Linked DNA regions of Homo sapiens. The protein of the gene in region 1 interacts with the protein of each later gene in a biochemical or structural test. Each region holds a gene or a part of one and is shown in the gene's direction. Other genes may lie near its edges. The genes, in order: SKP1, CENPE, MAGI3, CACYBP, ZC3HC1 and FBXO8.

Evidence for each region.
Region 2: the proteins of SKP1 (region 1) and CENPE form a complex in vitro, tested with the Homo sapiens proteins (one study listed by BioGRID).
Region 3: the proteins of SKP1 (region 1) and MAGI3 form a complex in vitro, tested with the Homo sapiens proteins (one study listed by BioGRID).
Region 4: the proteins of SKP1 (region 1) and CACYBP form a complex in vitro, tested with the Homo sapiens proteins (one study listed by BioGRID).
Region 5: the proteins of SKP1 (region 1) and ZC3HC1 form a complex in vitro, tested with the Homo sapiens proteins (one study listed by BioGRID).
Region 6: the proteins of SKP1 (region 1) and FBXO8 form a complex in vitro, tested with the Homo sapiens proteins (one study listed by BioGRID).

What each region holds. Positions count from the first base shown.
Region 1 is NC_000005.10:134,163,451-134,166,950, reverse strand, and holds part of SKP1 (S-phase kinase-associated protein 1), read left to right. Parts: intron 1-3,500. UniProt on the Homo sapiens protein: Essential component of the SCF (SKP1-CUL1-F-box protein) ubiquitin ligase complex, which mediates the ubiquitination of proteins involved in cell cycle progression, signal transduction and transcription.
Region 2 is NC_000004.12:103,139,344-103,142,843, reverse strand, and holds part of CENPE (centromere-associated protein E isoform 1 precursor), read left to right. Parts: intron 1-935; coding exon 936-1,094; intron 1,095-1,739; coding exon 1,740-2,030; intron 2,031-2,429; coding exon 2,430-2,588; intron 2,589-2,764; coding exon 2,765-3,055; intron 3,056-3,500. UniProt on the Homo sapiens protein: Microtubule plus-end-directed kinetochore motor which plays an important role in chromosome congression, microtubule-kinetochore conjugation and spindle assembly checkpoint activation.
Region 3 is NC_000001.11:113,649,015-113,652,514, forward strand, and holds part of MAGI3 (membrane-associated guanylate kinase, WW and PDZ domain-containing protein 3), read left to right. Parts: intron 1-222; coding exon 223-314; intron 315-1,999; coding exon 2,000-2,192; intron 2,193-3,500.
Region 4 is NC_000001.11:175,006,447-175,009,946, forward strand, and holds part of CACYBP (calcyclin-binding protein), read left to right. Parts: intron 1-298; coding exon 299-395; intron 396-651; coding exon 652-751; intron 752-2,162; coding exon 2,163-2,260; intron 2,261-3,476; coding exon 3,477-3,500. UniProt on the Homo sapiens protein: May be involved in calcium-dependent ubiquitination and subsequent proteasomal degradation of target proteins. Probably serves as a molecular bridge in ubiquitin E3 complexes. Participates in the ubiquitin-mediated degradation of beta-catenin (CTNNB1).
Region 5 is NC_000007.14:130,020,375-130,023,874, reverse strand, and holds part of ZC3HC1 (zinc finger C3HC-type protein 1), read left to right. Parts: intron 1-151; coding exon 152-364; intron 365-1,349; coding exon 1,350-1,556; intron 1,557-3,500. UniProt on the Homo sapiens protein: Required for proper positioning of a substantial amount of TPR at the nuclear basket (NB) through interaction with TPR.
Region 6 is NC_000004.12:174,259,668-174,263,167, reverse strand, and holds part of FBXO8 (F-box only protein 8), read left to right. Parts: intron 1-67; 5' UTR 68-75; coding exon 76-404; intron 405-3,342; coding exon 3,343-3,469; intron 3,470-3,500. UniProt on the Homo sapiens protein: May promote guanine-nucleotide exchange on an ARF. Promotes the activation of ARF through replacement of GDP with GTP.

The sequences.
Region 1 (3,500 bases):
ATTTATTGGGCATCTGTACTGTGTCTACCTATGCAAACACTTCCCTAGGAAGGATGATCTACATGTAGAATATCTGGATCGCAGGTTGGCTTATATACCTAAATTTTGATAGATACTGTTAAATAGTCTTCTGTAAAGATACCACTTCTAGAGCATGGTGGAATTGAATCGTGACTGTCTTTCTTAGATTTATAATTTTGAAACGGCTAAAGTCAAAGGAATATGTAACACTTTGTTCCCATTTCTGTCCTTATCTATTCCAGTCCCCTTTCAGGTAGCAATTTATCCTTTCAGTATTTTGTAATACAGGTATTAACAAGTAAGTATATTTTTTTCCCACATTCTTTTTTTTTTTTTTTTTTTTTTTTTTGAGACCAGAGTCTTGCTCTGTCGCCAGGTTGGAGGGTAGTGGTATGATCTCGGCTCACTGCAACCTCTGCCTCCTGGGTTCAGGTGATTCTCCTGCCTCAGCCTCCTGAGTAGCTGGGACTACAGGCACACGCCACCATGCCCAGCTAATTTTTGTATTTTTAGTAGAGACAGGGTTTCACCATGTTGGCCAGGATGGTTTTGATCTCTTGACCTCATGATCTGCCCACCTCAGCCTCGCAAAGTGCTGGGATCACAGGTGTGAGCCACCGCGCCCAGCATTCTCCCCCATTCTTAAGGTAGCAAACTATACATTTCTATGTTTTTTTTTTTCCATATAACAAAATGAAAGGTGATATGTCTATGTTAGTTAATATATAGCATCTTTTTTTTTTTTGAGATGGAGCCTCGCCCTGTTGCCCAGGCTGGAGTGCAGTGGTGTGATCTCAGCTCACTGCAGCCTCTGCCTTCCGGGTTCAAGTAATTTTCCCTGCCTCAGCCTCCCGAATAGCTAGGATTACAGATGCCCACCACCACACTGGCTAATTTTTATATTAGACAGGTTTTCACCATGTTGGCCAGGCTGGTCTCCAACTCCTGACCTCAGACGATCTCCCTGCCTTGGCCTCCCAAAGTGCTGGGATTACAGGTGGAGCCACCATGCCTGGCTAACCTGAATTTTTTTGTGTTTGTTTGTTTTTTTGATCTCACTCTGTTGCCCAGGCTGGAGAGCAGTGGCACAATCTCGGCTCACTGCAGCCTCCACTTTCCAGGTTCAAGCAATTCTCCTGCCTCAGCCTCCCAAGTAGCTGGGATTACAGGCACTCGCCACCACGCCTGGCTAATTTTTGTATTTTTTAGTAGAGATGGGGTTTCACCATGTTGGTCAGGCTGGTCTTGAATTCCTGACCTTGTGATCTGCCCACCTTGGCCTCCCAAAGTGCTGGGATTACAGGCATGAGCCACCGAGCCTGGCATTTTTTTTTTTTTTTTTTTGAGACAGACACTCTGTCGCCCAGGCTGGAGTGCAGTGGCACGATCTCAGCTCACTGCAACCTCTGCCTCTTGGGTTCAAGTGATTCTCCCGCCTCATCCTCTCGAGTAGCTGGGATTACAGACACCCGCTACCATGCCCAGCTAATTTTTTTATTTTTGTAGAGATGAGGGTTTCACCATGTTGGCCAGGCTGGTCTTGAACTCCTCACCTCAGGCGATCTGCCTGCTTTGGCCTCCCAAAGTGTGAATGTTTTTACATGTGTTACTGGCCATTTACATTTTCTGCATTGTCTGTTTTCATTTCTCTGTTTTCCTAATGGTCTTAGAAAAATAGTGATAAAATATACATAACATTGATCATTTTCACTTTTTGAACGTGCACCATTCAGTGACATTAATTACATTCACAGTGTTGTGCAGCTATCACCACTAAGCATTTTCAGAACTTTATCATCCCACACTGAAACTCTGTACCCATTAAACTGTAACTTCCAATTTCGGTACACCCTCCCCCCTCAAAAAAAAAATTGGTACACCCTCCCCCCTCAAAAAAAAAAATTACGCTAGGTAAACACTATTCTACTTTCTGTATCTGAATTTAGCTATCCTGGATACATAATATATGGAATCATACAATATTAGTCCTTTTGTATCTGGCTTATTTCACTTAGCATAATGTTTTCAAGGTTCATCCATGTTGTTGTCTAATGAGCTTAAAAAATTGTGGTAAAATACACATAACAAAATTTACCACCTTAACCATTTTTAAGTGACAATTCAGTGGTATTATCTAATAGGCTTTTTATAAGAACTCTTTAAAAGTTTCTACCAGTTTGCTTGTCTTACGTTAATTCATGTTACGATTTAGAGGCTTTATTTTATCTAGTTAGATCTCATTCTTTATGACTTCTGAATATGTCTTGCAATTAACGTATTCTATTTTATACTAATGAAAAATGTTTCTAAAAGGATCTTTGCTTGTAGTCGAATGCCTGGTACATTCAAATGCCATCCAAAAGCTGGGGGTATAGCAGTGAACCAAAGAGACAAAATCTCTGCCCTTATGGAGTTTATGGTCTGAAGGGGTGGGGAATATGCAACATTAGAAATACATCAAATGGAAAAACTATGGAGAATAAAGAAGGGAATGGGGAATTTAAAGGGGTGAGTAGGTGAACAGTTAGCTGTTTTTAAAATAAAGATGGTCAGGAGATGTCTTACTGAGAAGATAATCTTTTTTTTTTTTTTTTTTTTTTTTTTTTTCTTGAGATGGAGTTTTGCTCTTGTTGCCCAGGCTGGAGTACAGTGGCACAACTTTGGCTCACTGCAGCCTCTGCCTCCGGGCTTTAAGCAGTTCTCCTGCTTCAGCCTCAGTAGCTGGGATTACAGGCGCGCGCCACCACGCCCGGCTAATTTTTTGTATTTTGAGTAGAGATGGGGTTTCACCATGTTGGCCAGGCTGGTCTCGAACTCCGGACCTCAGGTGATCCGCCTGCCTCAGTCTCTCAAAGTGCTGGGATTACAGGCTTGAGTCACCATCCCTGGCCGAAGATAATCTTTTAAACAAAGACGTGAATATTTGGGGGAAAAGAATTCTGGGATTTGGGAGCAAGTACAGTGACCTTAAGACAAGAGCATGCCCTGCCTTTTTAGGAAAGGCAAGGAGTTTAGTGGAAGCTAGAGCAAGAAGTGAGTAGATAAGGTCAGAGTTAAAGGGTTGGGTGATGTAGGGCCACTTCTGAGAATGAGAAGTGCTTGGTTTTTGGGGTTTTTTTGTTTGTTTGGTTTGTTTGTTTGAGATAGGGCCTCACTGTGTTGCCTGGGCTGGAGTGCAGTGGTGCAGTCATGGGTCACTGCACCTTCTACCTCCCGGGTTCAGGTGATCTTCTCACCTCAGCCTCCCGAGTAGCTGGGAGTACAAGCACATGCCACCACACTTGGCAAATTTTTGTATTTTTTGTAGAGATGGAGTTTCACCATGTTGCCGAGGCTAGTCCGGAACTCCTGGGCTCAAGCGATCTGTCTCCTTTGGCCTCCCAGAGTGCTGGGATTATAGGTGTGGGCCACCACACCCAGCCGAGAAGTTTTTTTTTTTTTTAAGCCTGTTTGTATTGAATATATATCATATTTTGAAG
Region 2 (3,500 bases), on another chromosome or scaffold:
TAGAGAGGAGGTTTCACCGTGTTGACCAGGGTGGTCTCGATCTCCTGACCTCATGATCCACCCGCCTCGGCCTCCCAAAGTGCTGGGATTACAGGCATGAGCCGCCAGGCCCAGCCTCAACTTCTTAAAGTAAAAAATGATCTTAGGGAAACTATGTATCAAACAGGTCAGTTAAAGAAGCAGTTAGAGGCCTGGAATGTAACTCTGGAAAGTGTAGAAACGCAGAAATTAAGATTGACTCAGAAGCTTCATGAAAACCTTCAGGATGTAAGATTTGTTACTAAGGAAAATGATGGCCTAAGAGGAGTAGAGGAAATCTTTAAAATGGAGCAAGACCAACTTAGGGAAGGCCTTAGAGAAATAGAAGCTAAAGTAAGCTCATTCCTCTCCCTGGCAATTCAATGTATTGTGTTCTTACAGCAATGAACCCTTCTTTGAACCAAGTACTACTGTTGGCAAGAATGAAATGATACAGCCTTTTAAGCAGATAATTTGGTACTGTTCTTGAAAAGTTCAAGTCTGCAATTATCATTTTCCTTACGGACTTTAGCCTACATATATACTGTTAAAGGAGTGTGTGTGTATATACAAACACAACGTATACATATGCCACAGGTTATTTATTGTAGTGATTTTAATTAAAAATCTGAAACAATCTAAATGTTCCTCAGAAGGAAACAGTAAATATGAACAATATATCGAAATACTATGCAACACTTAAAAAAAGTAATATATGTGTAATGTGTTTGCCTCTGGAAAGCAGAAGTAGAGTGTGAAGAGAGGAGGACAGGGAAGAGAAAGCCTGTACCTTAAAAACAACAGCAAAGATATAGAGTAACAGTGTTATTATTTTTACTAAGAAAATATATCACTTTATTTTTTAAAAACTAATATTAAGATATGTCACTGTTTTTAAAATTTCTCTAATGGTAAAGGATCTGAAAATACAAGAGGAACTAAGAATTGCTCACATGCATCTGAAAGAGCAGCAGGAAACTATTGACAAACTCAGAGGAATTGTTTCTGAGAAGACAGATAAACTATCAAATATGCAAAAAGATTTAGAAAATTCAAATGCTAAATTACAAGAAAAGGTATTTTTATGGGGGGATTGTTTGATTGGATATCTAATTTGTTTGTGCCTAAAATTGTTGGGGATATAAAATGGTTCAACCACACTGGAAAACACCTTGGCAGTATTTACTAATGCTGGATGTAGCCTGCCTGAGGCCCAACATTTCCACTTCTTGGGTATGTACATAAGAGAAAAGAGTACGTACATACTTCTATAAAAAGACACAAGAATGTTTATAGCAGCCTTATTCAAAATAACAAAAAACTGAAAACTCAAATGTCTATCAGCAGGAAAATGGATACATACATTGTGATATATAGGTTCAAAAGCAGGCAAAACTGAACCAGGATGATAAAGGTCAGAATAGTGGCTGTCTCTAGGAAGGAGCACACAGAAACTTTATGAAGTGCTAGAAATATTCTCTGTTTTAATCTGGGTTGTAGTTTCATAGATTTACACCTGTGTCAAGAATAATTAAGTTATACATTGAAGATGAGCATGCTTTATATATATTATACCTCAAAAGAAAGTAAAATTCTGTGTGGAATTGTGCAGGATATCAGTGAGAGTAACATGGGTAGACAGTTGTCTTAATCAATTTAGAAACTATTATTTATCTGTCCCTAAAAAGCCACCTAACATATTATTTTATGATTATCTTAAGATTCAAGAACTTAAGGCAAATGAACATCAACTTATTACGTTAAAAAAAGATGTCAATGAGACACAGAAAAAAGTGTCTGAAATGGAGCAACTAAAGAAACAAATAAAAGACCAAAGCTTAACTCTGAGTAAATTAGAAATAGAGAATTTAAATTTGGCTCAGAAACTTCATGAAAACCTTGAAGAAATGAAATCTGTAATGAAAGAAAGAGATAATCTAAGAAGAGTAGAGGAGACACTCAAACTGGAGAGAGACCAACTCAAGGAAAGCCTGCAAGAAACCAAAGCTAGAGTGAGTTGTGTTCTCTCTTTACCCTACCATTATATTCACATATTTGGGCAAAAATACAGTGTTCACTGCAGCGTTGTGTCTGGTGACTAAAACCTAGAAATAATCTAAGTGTCCACCAATAATAAGGCACTATCTGTATAATGGAAAACTAAGCATAAGAATGGGGTATTCTTTTTGTGATATTGATTTAGAAAGATGTCCAAGTGGTATGAAAGGAGAAGGCTATGGGTGAGGCTACCAGCAGAAAATTTTACTTTACTCTTCTAATTTAGGAGGTTGTATAATGGTTGTTTTTAACTGTGAGTGTATAATTTTTAAGATTTTGTTTAAACTCAATCATTAAGTAAAGGTAACGTGCCTTTATATCATTACATTTCTTGATTTCTTCTAACCATAAAGGATCTGGAAATACAACAGGAACTAAAAACTGCTCGTATGCTATCAAAAGAACACAAAGAAACTGTTGATAAACTTAGAGAAAAAATTTCAGAAAAGACAATTCAAATTTCAGACATTCAAAAGGATTTAGATAAATCAAAAGATGAATTACAGAAAAAGGTATGTGTTGTTTTGTTCTTCTTTTGGAAGTAACTGTGCCCAAAATTATTTGTGGAATTAAAAAGATATAGATACAGATATGTAGATAGATATGTGCATATAGAACACAAGTAGACACTATTTGCCTTCCTTGAAGAAACTGCTTACATTCTAACTTGTTTTACAATTATCTCAAGATCCAAGAACTTCAGAAAAAAGAACTTCAACTGCTTAGAGTGAAAGAAGATGTCAATATGAGTCATAAAAAAATTAATGAAATGGAACAGTTGAAGAAGCAATTTGAGGCCCAAAACTTATCTATGCAAAGTGTGAGAATGGATAACTTCCAGTTGACTAAGAAACTTCATGAAAGCCTTGAAGAAATAAGAATTGTAGCTAAAGAAAGAGATGAGCTAAGGAGGATAAAAGAATCTCTCAAAATGGAAAGGGACCAATTCATAGCAACCTTAAGGGAAATGATAGCTAGAGTGAGTTCAGAGTCTTCCTTTGTGTAGTAACTATTAATAAGAATTAAGCTTTTTTGAAAAGAATTACAATGTTTTTATTTCTTTCTCTGGAAATTCCTATGAACAGTAAAGGACAGTGGGAAATGGTTACTCTAATTTTTACACAATAGAAAACAGTTTTAAAAGAAGCAAAAATATTTTCAGAAAATAACATTTAATTCTTTATTTTTATAAACTGTGTTAAAGCAGTCTATTTCCCTTAATATAACATTTTAAAGTTTTTTTTAATCAAGAGATAGCATTATTCTAAATGGAGAAATATTTGAAGGATTAGATTTGTAAGAGAGCAAATATTCCCATTTCTCTACCTATACATGCTGGAGTTCTAGAGTTGGGCTCTTATTGGTGAAGTTAAAAGGAAAAAAGGGAAGATAAATATAAAAATTAAGTTCCTCTGGTATGACTA
Region 3 (3,500 bases), on another chromosome or scaffold:
TTTCTAAACAGTCTTCATACAGTTTTGTTTAGAGCTCAAAACGAGGATTTATAGTTGAATTGTGTGTGTGTGTTACACTCTTGTGCAAATTTTCCATATTAAAAAGTTCTGAGATTATAGTTTATTGAGTTACTCTATAATATCCTACTAAATACTGAACTTTGTTTTGTTTTAATCCTTTTAAAATAAATCATAGTATTTATATTTTCTGATTTTCCTCAGCACCAAACACCAAAGATTTGGATGTTTTTCTTCGAAAACAAGAGTCAGGGTTTGGCTTCAGGGTGCTAGGAGGAGATGGACCTGACCAGTCTGTAAGTGTCACTTCTTTGGAACATGGCTGTTTCCTGTTCAAACGTTTTGAGTGGTGATTTGGTGGATTATGGTGTGTTTTAAGTTTTTTTTTCTCTGACAGTTTCATTAATATGAAGAATAACTGCATTTCCATTATTATCATAGTCCCTCAGTTATTGTGGTGTAGCTGAGGCTAAAAACTGTGGGTAAAAACTGAATATGTCAGCTGCAAATTAGACAGTGATTAATTTATTTACTTCTCTGTGTGAATAACTACATAAAGCTTATTTTAAGTTTATATTTTCCTTTGCCCTCATTAAACAGAGTCTAAGACATTTTCCTTCTCTAAGAAGCCTATAATCCCATGTCCTCTTTCCCACTATTACTCTATCTTCTGGATGCTCCATAAATGGTTGGCATGAGCCTGTGCATATTGTTTCACCTCGTCTTATTAATAGGTTGGCATTTTCATGCTCAGTACTTTGCATGTCATTTCATCTGTTACCTTTGAAACTAGAGGAATATAAAATAATTAATATTTTTGTCCAGAGGCATAAGGGTTATATTTGCAAAGCATTTGAAGTCTAGGATTTTGTTTACACATGATTCTCACATAAACTTGTTTTAGAGAACAAATGTAGTGGGTTTTGTTTCTAAGTTTTGCTCTTGGTTTGAATAACAAAGAAGTAATGTGTTCTGTAGCATTTTTAAGAACATATTTGCATTTTATTTTATATAATATCAATATATTATATATCAAAAAATATGGTTGGAAGTTAGGTGAAGAACAATAATCTTTAAAAATTACAGGCTTCTTATTTCTGAATAGAACATTTGATTTATGTAGTATAAATTTGTTCTAATTGGTCATATTGGTTACAGTTACAACAGTCATTGGAGACACATAAAGCTTAAGGCAGGTTGCCCTATGTAGAACAAATACTAGATACTTTAATTGTTCTTGGTATTTGTATTTTTGTTTTATTGCTTCCTATTTTGTTGATACTCATAATGTTCACTTAGACATTTTAAGAATTTGTCTCAAACAACTTAGAAGAAACCTTTCTTTTCTCTTAAATGTCAGATTTTAGCAGCTCTGAAACTAGCCTAAACATTCAGGATTGCCTAATTACAGGATTCTAATGCTGGTGAGCAAAATGAACCAGATTTGTTCACCTAGATGCAAGTGAAGCTTCAGGCCACTCTGTTCCCGCTGAGATTTAGAAACAAGAAATGTCTCTGTGCTGTGTATATTGAACTTGTACCGTTAGTCATATGTGATGGGAGTACTGTTGAGAATGATCCCAGTTGCTGTGAACAGTATGTAGAAAATCTTGCCTGATGACATTGAACAGACTTTTAATAGCTACTCTGCAGATTTATATTTTCTGAGTTTAGTGTTTTGTTTCATTGTAATGATAGGGATAATGGTTGTGCTTTTTGAGTTATCGAACAACTTTGTATTTTCTATTTTCTTTGTACACAGCCCTGAGGATCTATAAGGGATTACATAATACAATGTGGTTATTTGAAGTGCCATTTTGGAGAATGGGCACTTTCTCAGATAATACCTTTCTAAAATATAACTGTTTTCATAGTTGAACTGCAAAAATCTGTTGGTTTGCACAATGCTAAGTTAGGAATTCCTTAACTCTTCAGCTAAACTTTACACTGTGGACCAAACTGTACTTTGTTATCTTATCAGATATATATTGGGGCTATTATTCCCCTGGGAGCAGCTGAGAAAGATGGTCGGCTCCGCGCAGCTGATGAACTAATGTGCATTGATGGAATTCCTGTTAAAGGGAAATCACACAAACAAGTCTTGGACCTCATGACAACTGCTGCTCGAAATGGCCATGTGTTACTAACTGTCAGACGGAAGATCTTCTATGGAGGTGTGTGAACTTGTTCCTGCTCTGAAAAGTTAAAAAAGAAACAAAGATACTAGTCTACTTCCTGTGTAGTTTTGCAGGTTATTTTATTACATTCAGTAGTATCTAAGATAACCCATTTGGTGTGATCCAGGGCCTCACTGTGGAAGGCTATGCAAACACAAAAGGATTCAGAAATAATACTACTATAAAAAAATAAATTTTGGGCTTCTATATTAAGATTATTTTCATATATTGATGCATTTTGCAAATGTATTATAGGTGGGAGTATTGATTTAAATCCGGTTTTGTTTTGTTTTGTTGAGTTGAGGTAGAGTCTCACTCTGTCACCCAGGCTAGAGTGCAGTGGTATGAGCTCAGCTCACTGCAACCTCCACCTCTTGGGTTCAAGCGATTCTCCTGCCTCAGCCTCCTGAGTAGCTGGGATTACAGGCACACACCACCACACGGCTAATTTTTGTATTTTTAGTAGAGACGGGGTTTCACCACATTGGCCAGGCTGGTCTCGAACTCTTGACCTCAAGTGATCCACCTGTCTCAGACTCCCAAAGTGCTGGAATTACAGGCGTGAGCCACTGTGCCCAGCCTAAATTTGTTTTGTTTTTTTTTAAATAACAAATACAAAATTATTTAGTCATACCAAGATATCCCACTAGCTGAATATACAAAGATTTTTGGATCCCAGTGAAATCTGAGCTACTAAAGGAAAGTAGGATGTTTCTACTTGAGAAGTTTTAGTATAATTTAACATTTATTGAGTGCTTACTATGTCCTAGATGCATGGATTATTTTATTTAATCTTCACAACACTATGAGGTCATTATCTAGTTCTATGATTACTCAGAGAAAGGTTGAGAAACAAATAACTGGTAAGAGGTAGGGCCTGGATTAAAAGTTGCAGTTTAATTCAGAGATCAGGGTTTAAACCATAGCATTAGGATATGAATATCTCTTATAGTTTCTCGCCAGTAGCTTTATGAATAATTAAATAGAAATTCTTATAAGTGAATTCTTTCCACTTTAAAATTAAAAAAATACAACTCTGTAGCACAAGAATATAAGCCTCATGAAGGTATGAATTTTTATTTGTGTAGTTATCTGCTGTAAGCTCGGCACCTAAAAGAGTGCCTGTCTGGTACAAAGTGGACATTAATAAATGTTGTTAATTGGATGAATATTTACATCACTCTTAAAAATGAGGCACTGTATTTTTTATTGCAACATTCAAAGTAAAGGCCTGCCTCCTTTGGTAAATACCAGGCATTTAGAATGCATATAGATTGTAATGCAGTACTGCCTCAATTTGGTTGT
Region 4 (3,500 bases), on another chromosome or scaffold:
TATTTAGTGATCATATTTTTATTCTGAGGGATAAAAAGAGCATAGGTTTTGTATTCAGAAACCTGGATTTGAATCTGAATTCTACCACTTGTTAGATGCCTAGCTTTGGGTAGAGTACTTAACTGCTTTGAGGCTCCATTTCTCAACCTAGAAAATTTCTTATATTTCAAATTTTTTCATGTTTATATGACTGGATTTTCATAATTTTACTTTCCTGACTTATGAGCCATGTGCATTTGCTGTTCTAAAGATAGTTTCAGAGGCTTACTTACGTCCCATCTTTTGTTGTCGTTGCCAGGATGGGATCAGTCAGATAAGTTTGTGAAAATCTACATTACCTTAACTGGAGTTCATCAAGTTCCCACTGAGAATGTGCAGGTGCATTTCACAGAGAGGTGAGTTCTCATTATAATGGGAAAGACAGTGAATTAACAGTCAACATTGCCTTATCTTGAGACTCTCTTCTTTGCAGTTTTTAAAATTCTTAAATTTAGAATTAATTATCCTTTACAACTACTTTGAAGAGGTGAGCGTTAACTGGCCAAATGCACACCCTGAAATAAAGCCAGCAGCTTTTTTCCCACAAGAACTATGGAGTAAGGGTACCTTTCATAGAACTAGAAAGATGATGTATTCACCATTGTGTTGCAGGTCATTTGATCTTTTGGTAAAGAATCTAAATGGGAAGAGTTACTCCATGATTGTGAACAATCTCTTGAAACCCATCTCTGTGGAAGGCAGTTCAAAAAAAGTGAGTGTGCTTTTTTTGATTGTAATATTGTGAAACCTTACCAAATTGAACCTGGCTGATTTAGAACTGAGATGAACTGGAATGAATTTGTCCTCTGTAACAGGGACCACCGCCTGTTTTGTGAATGTTTTATTGGGACATAGCCAGGCTTATTTGTTCATGTGTTGTTTGTGGATGCTTTTGTGCTACAATGGCAGAGTTAAGTGGCTACAGCAGACCATATGGCCCTAAATGAAACCTAAAATATTTACTATGCGGCCCTCGACAGAGAACATTTGCCAACTCCTTTTGTAGAATAGGCTATTGTAAGAATATTCCATTAAAATCAGGGAGGAAGTAAACGTTTGAAGGTAGTTAAGAGTGAGACTTGAGTTTTATGCCAGGTTTACAGCTTATTGTTTGTGACCTTTGGCAGCTTAATCACTCTGTGCCTCAGTTTCTGCATTTATGCGATAGTAATAATTTATTTCACAAAGTTGAAATGATACACTGAAGTGCAATACCATTATGTAAAGTGCTTAAATTAATGCTAGTGTTAGCATTGTGCATAATACTCGTATACATAAAAGGAGGTCTTAAGCACTTAGCCTCCTTGGAGTTAGAAGCAGCTATAAAAATAAGGAAACTGTCTTTTAAAAACTACTCTTTGTAATTTTTACTAAATCAGATAGTCCCTGTTTTCTGCCTAATGTGAATAAATGAAGTTTAATGCGTTAGGTATATAGACATGACATTCTGCCATCTGTTTTTATAATACATAATTACTTAACAGCTTACAGGTGATACTCAAATATAGTTGGATTCGCTGTCTTACTGCACCCTTCTGCATCCGCTAGTCCCATAGGTAGAGTACCAAAAGATCCCTAGTATTGATCATTGTTTAAAAGACCTGTACATTGCCCTTCTTTCTCACTTTCAAATGCCTCACCTTGCCCCATACTGCCTTATACGACTTGGTTTCTTGCCTATCCCCGACCCCTCTTATTATATTACTGTCTTTTTCAGTCACTAAAATCCAGCCACTCCTCCTGCTCCTCAAACACACCAAGATGATCCCATCTTGGAGCCATTCTGCATGCTCTGCCAACTGCCTTCTCCTGACCTTAGGCTTCGGCTCAGATTTGCCTCAGAGAGGCCTTCCTAATGAAGTTCCTGCCCCCACCCCCCATTAACACCCGCTTTGTCTTGATAGCACTTTCCAGGATATCAGGGTATTCAAGTTTTACTTATTTATGGTCTTTTCACACCATGAATGTTCAGATTTTGGCCTATTCATACAAGTATTACTGGCACCCAAAATAAGTCTATACATACTAGGGACTTGATCAATTGAATAGATAATTGTTTTATAAATATTCATGCTTATCTCCATGTCTTCTAAGCTGTATTTGTTTTCCTGCTTTTCTTCCAGGTCAAGACTGATACAGTTCTTATATTGTGTAGAAAGAAAGTGGAAAACACAAGGTGGGATTACCTGACCCAGGTTGAAAAGGAGTGCAAAGAAAAAGAGTGAGTCTACTTCCATTTTTTTAAAGAATTTTAGTGTATTGTTTGAGATCATGGATTTTTAATAGTTTGTCTTTATGGATAATGTATTTCTGCTTTCAACTGTCAAACTACCTGAAGAGGGCACGTCCAGCAAGTTGCTTTTTAAGGTCTTTGTAGTTAAGGGTTGGCTCTTTAGTGTGGTTCTTAACCCTAGGCGCAGTTGTGCTTCTATACAAATAACTGTGCCCATTCCCAGATACTCTGTTTCGGTAGTTTGAGAGGGGCTTAGGTACCCCTGTATGTTTTAAATTTCTCAGATGCTTCTGATGCGTAGTTTTCATTGTCACTGGTTTATAGTGAAAAAGATAAAATATTTTTATCCTTCTTAATAATGACCTTTTAAAAATGTGTATTCAATGATACTTGCGTTCTAGGTCAGTTCATCTTCTAAAGGTACTGACTAAATTAATTCAAGACCCAGGCCCAGATCTGTGTATCTCAGGCTTAAGAGGAGAGTTTTTCTAATTAAAAAATACATGAGCTTCAGGGTACATCCATGTGTAATGTTTATGATTTTCCCTCAAGTGTTTTTTTTCAAATTATGAGGAAACATGCTTTTAAAAAATGAAAACAAGTTAGAAAATCAAATTCTTATTTTACCTGTCAAAAATCACAGGAGGCCAGGTGGGGTGGCTCACGCCTGTAATCCTAGCACTTTGGGAGGCTGAGGCGGGCGGATCACCTGAGGTCAGGAGTTTGAGACCAGCCTGGCCAACATGGTGAAACTCTGTCTCTACTAAAAATACAAAAATTAGCCGGGCATGGTGGCATGTGCCTGTAATCCCAGCTACTCGGGAGGCTGAGGCAGACAGAATTGTTTGAACCTGGGAGGCGGAGGTTGCAGTGAACCGAGATGCGCCACTGCACTCCAGCCTGGGCAACAGAGCAGGACTGTCTCAAAAAAAAAAAAAAAAAAAAAATCATGGGAAATCCCTGTGCCTAAAAATAGCCCCTAACTATTTTGATGACCTCTTTCGTGCACCAAGTGTGTGCATGCTTGATACGTGTGTGTTGTTTTCATTAAGATGAATTTGTGCGTGCCGTTTTGATTGTAAATATCTTTGGGTACTCTGTCTTCCTTCTTATCCCTCTACTTCCTGCCAGTGTTAACAACCTGAATGATAGTATCTTCCGGTGCTTTCGTTTCCCCATTGTTGTATATGTTTTCTTTTTAAAGGAAGCCCTCCTATGACACTGAAAC
Region 5 (3,500 bases), on another chromosome or scaffold:
TGAGCCAAGATCGCCTCACTGCTCTCCAGCCTTGGCAACAAAGCGAGACTCTGTCTCAAAAAAAAAAAGAAAAAAGATTAAAGAAAGAAGTATTTCTGACCATAATCATTAATATCATTCGTGTACTTCCATTATCTCCCCTTTCCTTCAGGCTGAAAAGAGCCCTGGTCCCATTGTCTCTCGAACTCGGAGCTGGGACTCTTCCAGTCCTGTTGACCGTCCTGAGCCAGAGGCTGCTAGCCCCACCACCAGAACTCGCCCAGTGACCCGAAGCATGGGAACAGGAGACACCCCTGGCCTGGAGGTACCATCTAGCCCTCTGCGGAAAGCCAAGCGAGCTCGCCTCTGCTCCTCCAGCAGTTCGGTGAGTCCACCTCGCATGTAGCAGTGGCTGAGCATAAACAGCATATTGGGCCCTCCCTAGGCAGCATGGAGAAGCAGGCAGGAGCCCTTCCGTGGTCCAATGCAAAAAGTAGACCATGTGAATAAATTTAAAGTTGGATGACCAAAGGGAAAAAATGTCAGTCATGTTTTTTGCTCCTTTTTGTTCCTTTGGAGTGGATTCTGGAGAAATAATAGATATTTCAGGCAAATGGAACAACGGTGTGATACAGGGACAAACCTGATCTGGCAGCGGTCCCCAACCTTTTTGGCACCAGGGACCGTTTTCATGGAAGACCATTTTTCCACGGACCACGGTTGGGAGGATGGTTTCGGGATGATACGAGCACATTACATGTATTGTGTACTTTATTTCTATTATTATTATATTGTAATATATAATGAAATAATTGTACAACTCACCATAATATAGAGTCAGTGGGAACCTGCAGCTTGTTTTCCTGCAACTAGATGATCTCATCTGGGGGTGACGGGAAACAGTGACAGATCATGAGGTGTCAGACTCTCATAAGGAGCCCGAAGTCTAGATCCCTCTCATGTGCAGTTCACAGTAGGGTTCCTGCTCCTATAAGAATCTAATGCCACTGCTGATCTGACAGGAGGCAGAGCTCAGGTGGTAATGCAAACAATGGGGAGCAGCTGTAAATTCAGATGAAGCTTTGCTTGCCCGCCTGCTGTTCACCTCCTACTGTGCGACCTGGTACCCATCCATGGCCTGGGGGTTGGGTATCCCTTATCCCTTGTGATAAGGTATAGTTTGTTTAACACAAAAGGAGTGAAAAAATAAAGAAAATGAGAGGAAAATGTGTAGGCAAAGTTTGAAGGAGAGCATAAACACTCGAAGTATGGGTAGTTGTGAGATTCTGGACTTGATAACTAACAGCAGTGCCTCCCTGAACTTACATAGCATCTACCTATGAATGCTATTTCTTTTTCTCCTTCCTCAGGACACATCTTCCCGAAGCTTCTTTGATCCCACCTCTCAGCATAGAGACTGGTGCCCTTGGGTGAATATCACACTTGGCAAAGAAAGCAGGGAGAATGGTGGAACTGAACCAGATGCCAGCGCCCCAGCAGAGCCAGGCTGGAAAGCAGTGCTGACCATCCTCTTGGCGCACAAACAGTCTAGCCAGCCAGCTGAAACGGACTCCATGGTGAGATACGCCACTGCCTTGTGTGTGGGCAGCACTTGCTGTTTATGGGAGGTGGAGCAGAGGCTGGGCCTATAATTAGCACCCCGCCTGCCTTCAGCTTTCATACGTCAAGTTATTTGGGTTTTTTTGTTTGTTTGTTTGTTTTTTGAGATGGAGTCTCGTTCTTGTTGCCTAGGCTGGAGTCCAATGGCACGATCTCAGCTCACTGCAACCTCCGCCTCCTGGGTCAAGCGATTCTCCTGCCTTAGCTTCCCAAGTAGCTAGGATTACAGGCGCCCACCACCACACCCGGCTAATTTTGTATTTTTAATAGACAGGGTTTCACCATGTTGGCCAGGCTGGTCTCGAACTCCTGACCTCAGGTGATCCCCCCGCCTCGGCCTCCCAAAGTGCTGGGATTACAGGCGTGAGCCACCGTGCCCGGCTTATACGTCAAGTTAGACTCATTCTGCTTTCGTCCTAGGGATTAGGCATAGAACCGGTTCGTCTTTCTGTAGTTTAGCATATGGCATTCCGTCAAGTTCTGATAAATTCTTTTGTTCTCCTAAATAAAGTGACTCCAAGTAGAAAAGGAGTACGGAAACAGAAATAGATGAACAGGCAGCTGCTCCGGCCTCATGTTGCAGACAGCTGCTTTTTCTTTCATTTGCTGTCACTTGCACTTGGAGCCTGGCCAGTTAACTTAGCTGTTTGGAGCACTGGGCTCTGACACCAAGATGATGGCCTCATTCCGCACGCTGGGCACATTACTTTACTCTGTTCCACAGCCCAGACTGTGACTCTGCTAGCCATTGCAGCCATAACTGCTGTGGGTTACAAATGTGGGTGACAACTGAGAAGAAAAGTCAAGTGTTTGCTCTGTGTAAAGATTGGAAGTGATAGGCTGGGTAATATGGAACCATGAAAACTGGGTTCTCTCCTTCGCTGGCTCACTCCCAAATTTTCCTTGTAGCTGGTAACAATTTCTGATCGTAGTCTATAACTTTCAAGGACAAAGTAAAATAATACTTGTCAGCAGATATTTATGAGCAGCACTCCTAGATTCATGGTTTTCTAGGGTTACAGGATTCCACTGGAGGGAACTATAGTAATGCTAAAAGTCCAAAATTGCATGGCTGGGTGTGGTGGCTCACGCCTGTAATCCTAGCACTTTGGGAGGCCAAGGCGAATGGATCACCTGAGGTCAAGAGTTTGAGACAACCTAGCCAACATGGTGAAACCTCGTCTCTACTCAAAATACAAAAAAAAAAAAAATTTGCCATGTGTGGTGGCAGGCGCCTGTAATCCCAGCTATTGGGGAGGCTGAGGCTGGAGAATCACTTGAACCCAGGAGGCGGAGGTTGCAGTGAGCCGAGGTTGCGCTCCAGCCTGGGCTTCAGAGAGAGACGCTGTCTCAAAAAAAAATAAAATAAAAATAAATGTATATTAGTACCCTTAGTAAATATGCAGGTGAAGGTTTTCCAAGTTTTCACAGAAAAAAAAATCCGCATTTCTCTGCCTAGATCTTCAGGAACTAGTACATTGGCAGTTTTCAGTAAGACTCCTCTCTGTCACTGCCATACGAAAAAGAAAGCCTATGGGTTTTGTTTTTGTTTTGTAGTGGGAAAAGTTGGCCTCATAATTGGCCCTGGATTCCAGGACTTTTTTTTTCGGTAGTGTGTCTTAACCTTCTGACAGCTGCTGTGACGAAGCTAGAAAGCTTAATGAGACTGTGTGGTAAAGGATCCTGATGTTCGAAAAAAAAAAGTATATACCGAGGCCAGGCACAGTGGCTCATGCCTGTGATCCCAGCACTTTGGGACGCTGACGCAGGGGAATCACCTGAGGTCAGGAGTTCGAGACCAGCGTGGCCAACATGGCAAAACCCCATCTCTACTGAAAATACAAAAATTAGCCAGGACTGTTGGTGTGCACCTGTAATCCCAGTACTCCAGAGGCTGAGGC
Region 6 (3,500 bases), on another chromosome or scaffold:
TTATACCACTGGGAAAAATGGGTTACTTTTTAAATGTCACCCTTATTACATTCTGGCTTTTTCCCAGGCTTGCAGATGGGTCAAGGGTTGTGGAGAGTGGTCAGAAACCAGCAGCTGCAACAAGAAGGCTACAGTGAGCAAGGCTACCTCACCAGAGAGCAGAGCAGGAGAATGGCTGCGAGCAACATTTCTAACACCAATCATCGTAAACAAGTCCAAGGAGGCATTGACATATATCATCTTTTGAAGGCAAGGAAATCGAAAGAACAGGAAGGATTCATTAATTTGGAAATGTTGCCTCCTGAGCTAAGCTTTACCATCTTGTCCTACCTGAATGCAACTGACCTTTGCTTGGCTTCATGTGTTTGGCAGGACCTTGCGAATGATGAACTTCTCTGGCAAGGGTAAGTTAAACCCACCAAAGTTGAATTCAGGTATCTCTAAACATAATCATGCTTCAATGTTCTTTTTATAATGTATATTACAAAATATTTTCTTTAAACTTGGGCTTGTACTTTGAGATGCTCTTTATTAAAACCTGGAAAAATATACAGTTAGCATCACAGTCAAATTTGATCTTGTGAAAAGGAGGACAATAGAAAATAGAATAATAACTTTACAGTTAGAAGAGAGGTTACCAATCAGGCTCTGTCAGTTGATTATAAGTCAGAAACTCTCACTTTATTCTGAAAATACCGCAAAGTTGTGGAGTGAGAATTTCTAATTTAAAAGTTGGAGTGTTCACATGCTGTGTAGTTTGTGCTTCCCATAGGATACCTGCCATCTGAATAATAGGCAGACTTCGAAATCAATGAATAGTCCTCAAATGTTACTGTTTTTAATTTTCTTCATATAGAGCCTTACATTTTTACTCAATTCTATATTTCTTCAAAGGTGCTTGTTAGAATAAAATTTAACTGGTGAAAATTTTATCTACTTTTTTTTTCTAACCAGCATTTCAATGAAGTAGGCAAATATTAGAAAGCAAGGGGACAAATAGTTGTTTTTATTTACTTGCTGAACTTAGATTACATAAATTTCCACATTGTACTAGTCTGAATTAAAACCACAAATCTAAGAACATTTGCTGGAATAGAATCTGTTTTATTGAACCTAAGTTACTCCTTAAATAGCATCATATACTTTAACAAAAAGTATAGGTACATGATTTTTTGGCCTAAAAATATTACCAAACATGGAATCATTGGATCTCAGACCTTCTAGCATCCTTTACCAAAGTTTATTTGTCTTATTATCTTGAAATAGGTCTTTATAAAAATATAGACTATAACTAAAAACAAATATCTTTTTAAGACTTCCTATAATTTCAAACTAGAAATCTAATTGAGAGACTTAATAAATTACAAACTTTAGTCAAAATATATTTTCAGTAATGACATTCCTAAATTAGGCTTTCTGATGTCACACAGTTCTAGTACAAGTTATATAGGTCATTTCTCAACCTCTAAATAGATAAAAATCATCAATATCATATCTTGTTATTCTTTTACTCATTTGTTTGACATAGTGAAAGTACTACGTGAGAGGAAATTCTGTTAATGAGGAGTCTTTAAAATAAATGTTATTAATTTTTTACTCATGAATAGAAGAGGAAATGAAAGTACTTTTAAACTGGCTCATTCTTTCTAATCTCTTTTCTACATTTTAGTATTCCTTACTAACTTAATTTCTGTTTGTTTGAACTTTTTTTAAAAGTTTAATTTCTAGCCTTACCTGAAGTCAACCAGAATGTATTCTTCATTTGGGGTTTAAATCTGAATTTTTCATTTGTGAAAGAAATATTTGCCATAATTATGCCTATTTTTATAATACTTGGATTTTTTCCTTAATAATAAATTGCTTCTATTTGAAATTAAAGGCTGGCTTAGTTTTAATTTCAACTTTGGATGTATTGAATACTCATTGATGTTGGGAAGTTCTCTGGTTTTCACAAAGCTTAGTAATAAAACTCTAGTTTTGGGTTTTATTGGGACTAGATTAATAAGACTGAAAAAATATTGATAATATTCTAAACAATTTTTTATACTTACAGTTTTGAGTCAGTGATTTCATTTGGTGGGTAAAAATAATGCAGCAGTATAAATCAACTACTAAGAGGGTAGTCTCATGTTAAATTAGATATTTTACCCCCTTGTCCTCACAATTTTTGATGTTATATGCTCAGACAGTAACTTTTTCTTGTTGCTCTGCACTTTGTGTGTTTATTAAAAGAAGGAAATCTGAGGCAGAAATTAATAATGAATATAAGAAAGTAAACAGTTTCATTTGTCTCAACAAGTAGCAGGTGTTTTTGAATACACAACAAATCAGATAATTTTGAGACAAAGACTCATCACAATTGTATCAGAATATAATTTCAGTATTCTCTGTTTCTCTAGAATAATGCATTTATATTTAAGGCTTTTTGGTGGATATCCAGAATTTCCAGGCATTATAATAAGATAAAACATTAACTTTCAAATAACCAGTAGCTATTGCCTCTGTGAAGAGTTAGAAAGTATCCCAATCTGCAGTGTGTTTTGAGATATGAACTGTTAGTATTTTCGGTTTTATAGAATTTCTAAACAATCATGTATCACTCTGATAATAAAGAACTAGTGTTTTTGAAGCAGTATCTTAAAAACAGCTATGTTGAACATCACAGCTTGATGAATGTATTCAAGTTGTGGCATTACAAACAATTTCTGTATTTAATTTGTCTGTTGTAACGTGTATTATTTGAAAAACAAAAGCTGTTTCCCTGCCCAGCATTCTTTTCCTCCCATTTAGTTTTATTTCACAATAGAGCACATAGGTTAGTTAATAAACCCTATTTAGATTCTTGGTTAATAATTGCAAGCTGTGGATTACTCATTGGGTTGAAATCCTGCATCTGTACATATTAGCCGTATGATCTTGGGCAACTGTTTTGTCTGTGTTTCTTATCTGTATCACCAACGTCATAGGATTGTTGTGAAGATTAGGCAGGCTAATCCAATTAAAATACTTGAAATAGGGTCTGACATCTAGTAAGTATTCAGTAAATGTTAGCTATTATTACTATTATTAGGAATAGTTTATGTTTAACTTCAGATAGTACTCATGAATATTATTAATCTCTATAACTCACATTTATTAGATGCTGTCAAAATTGCTAAATTTAAAGCATCTGTCATACTCTAGTAAACAAATAGAAAACAAGTACAAACTTAAAAATTTTAAACTTTAGAACTATAAAATTCAATCTTATTTCATGTTACTATTTTTGCATGTATATGCATATTTAACTTAGGAAATTAAATGTAGTAATGTTTTCTTGTCTCATTTTCTCTGATTTTATAGGTTGTGCAAATCCACTTGGGGTCACTGTTCCATATACAATAAGAACCCACCTTTAGGATTTTCTTTTAGAAAATTGTATATGCAGCTGGATGAAGGCAGCCTCACCTTTAATGCCAACCCAGATGAGGTTAGTGAAGAACTTGAATATTTGTATCCAG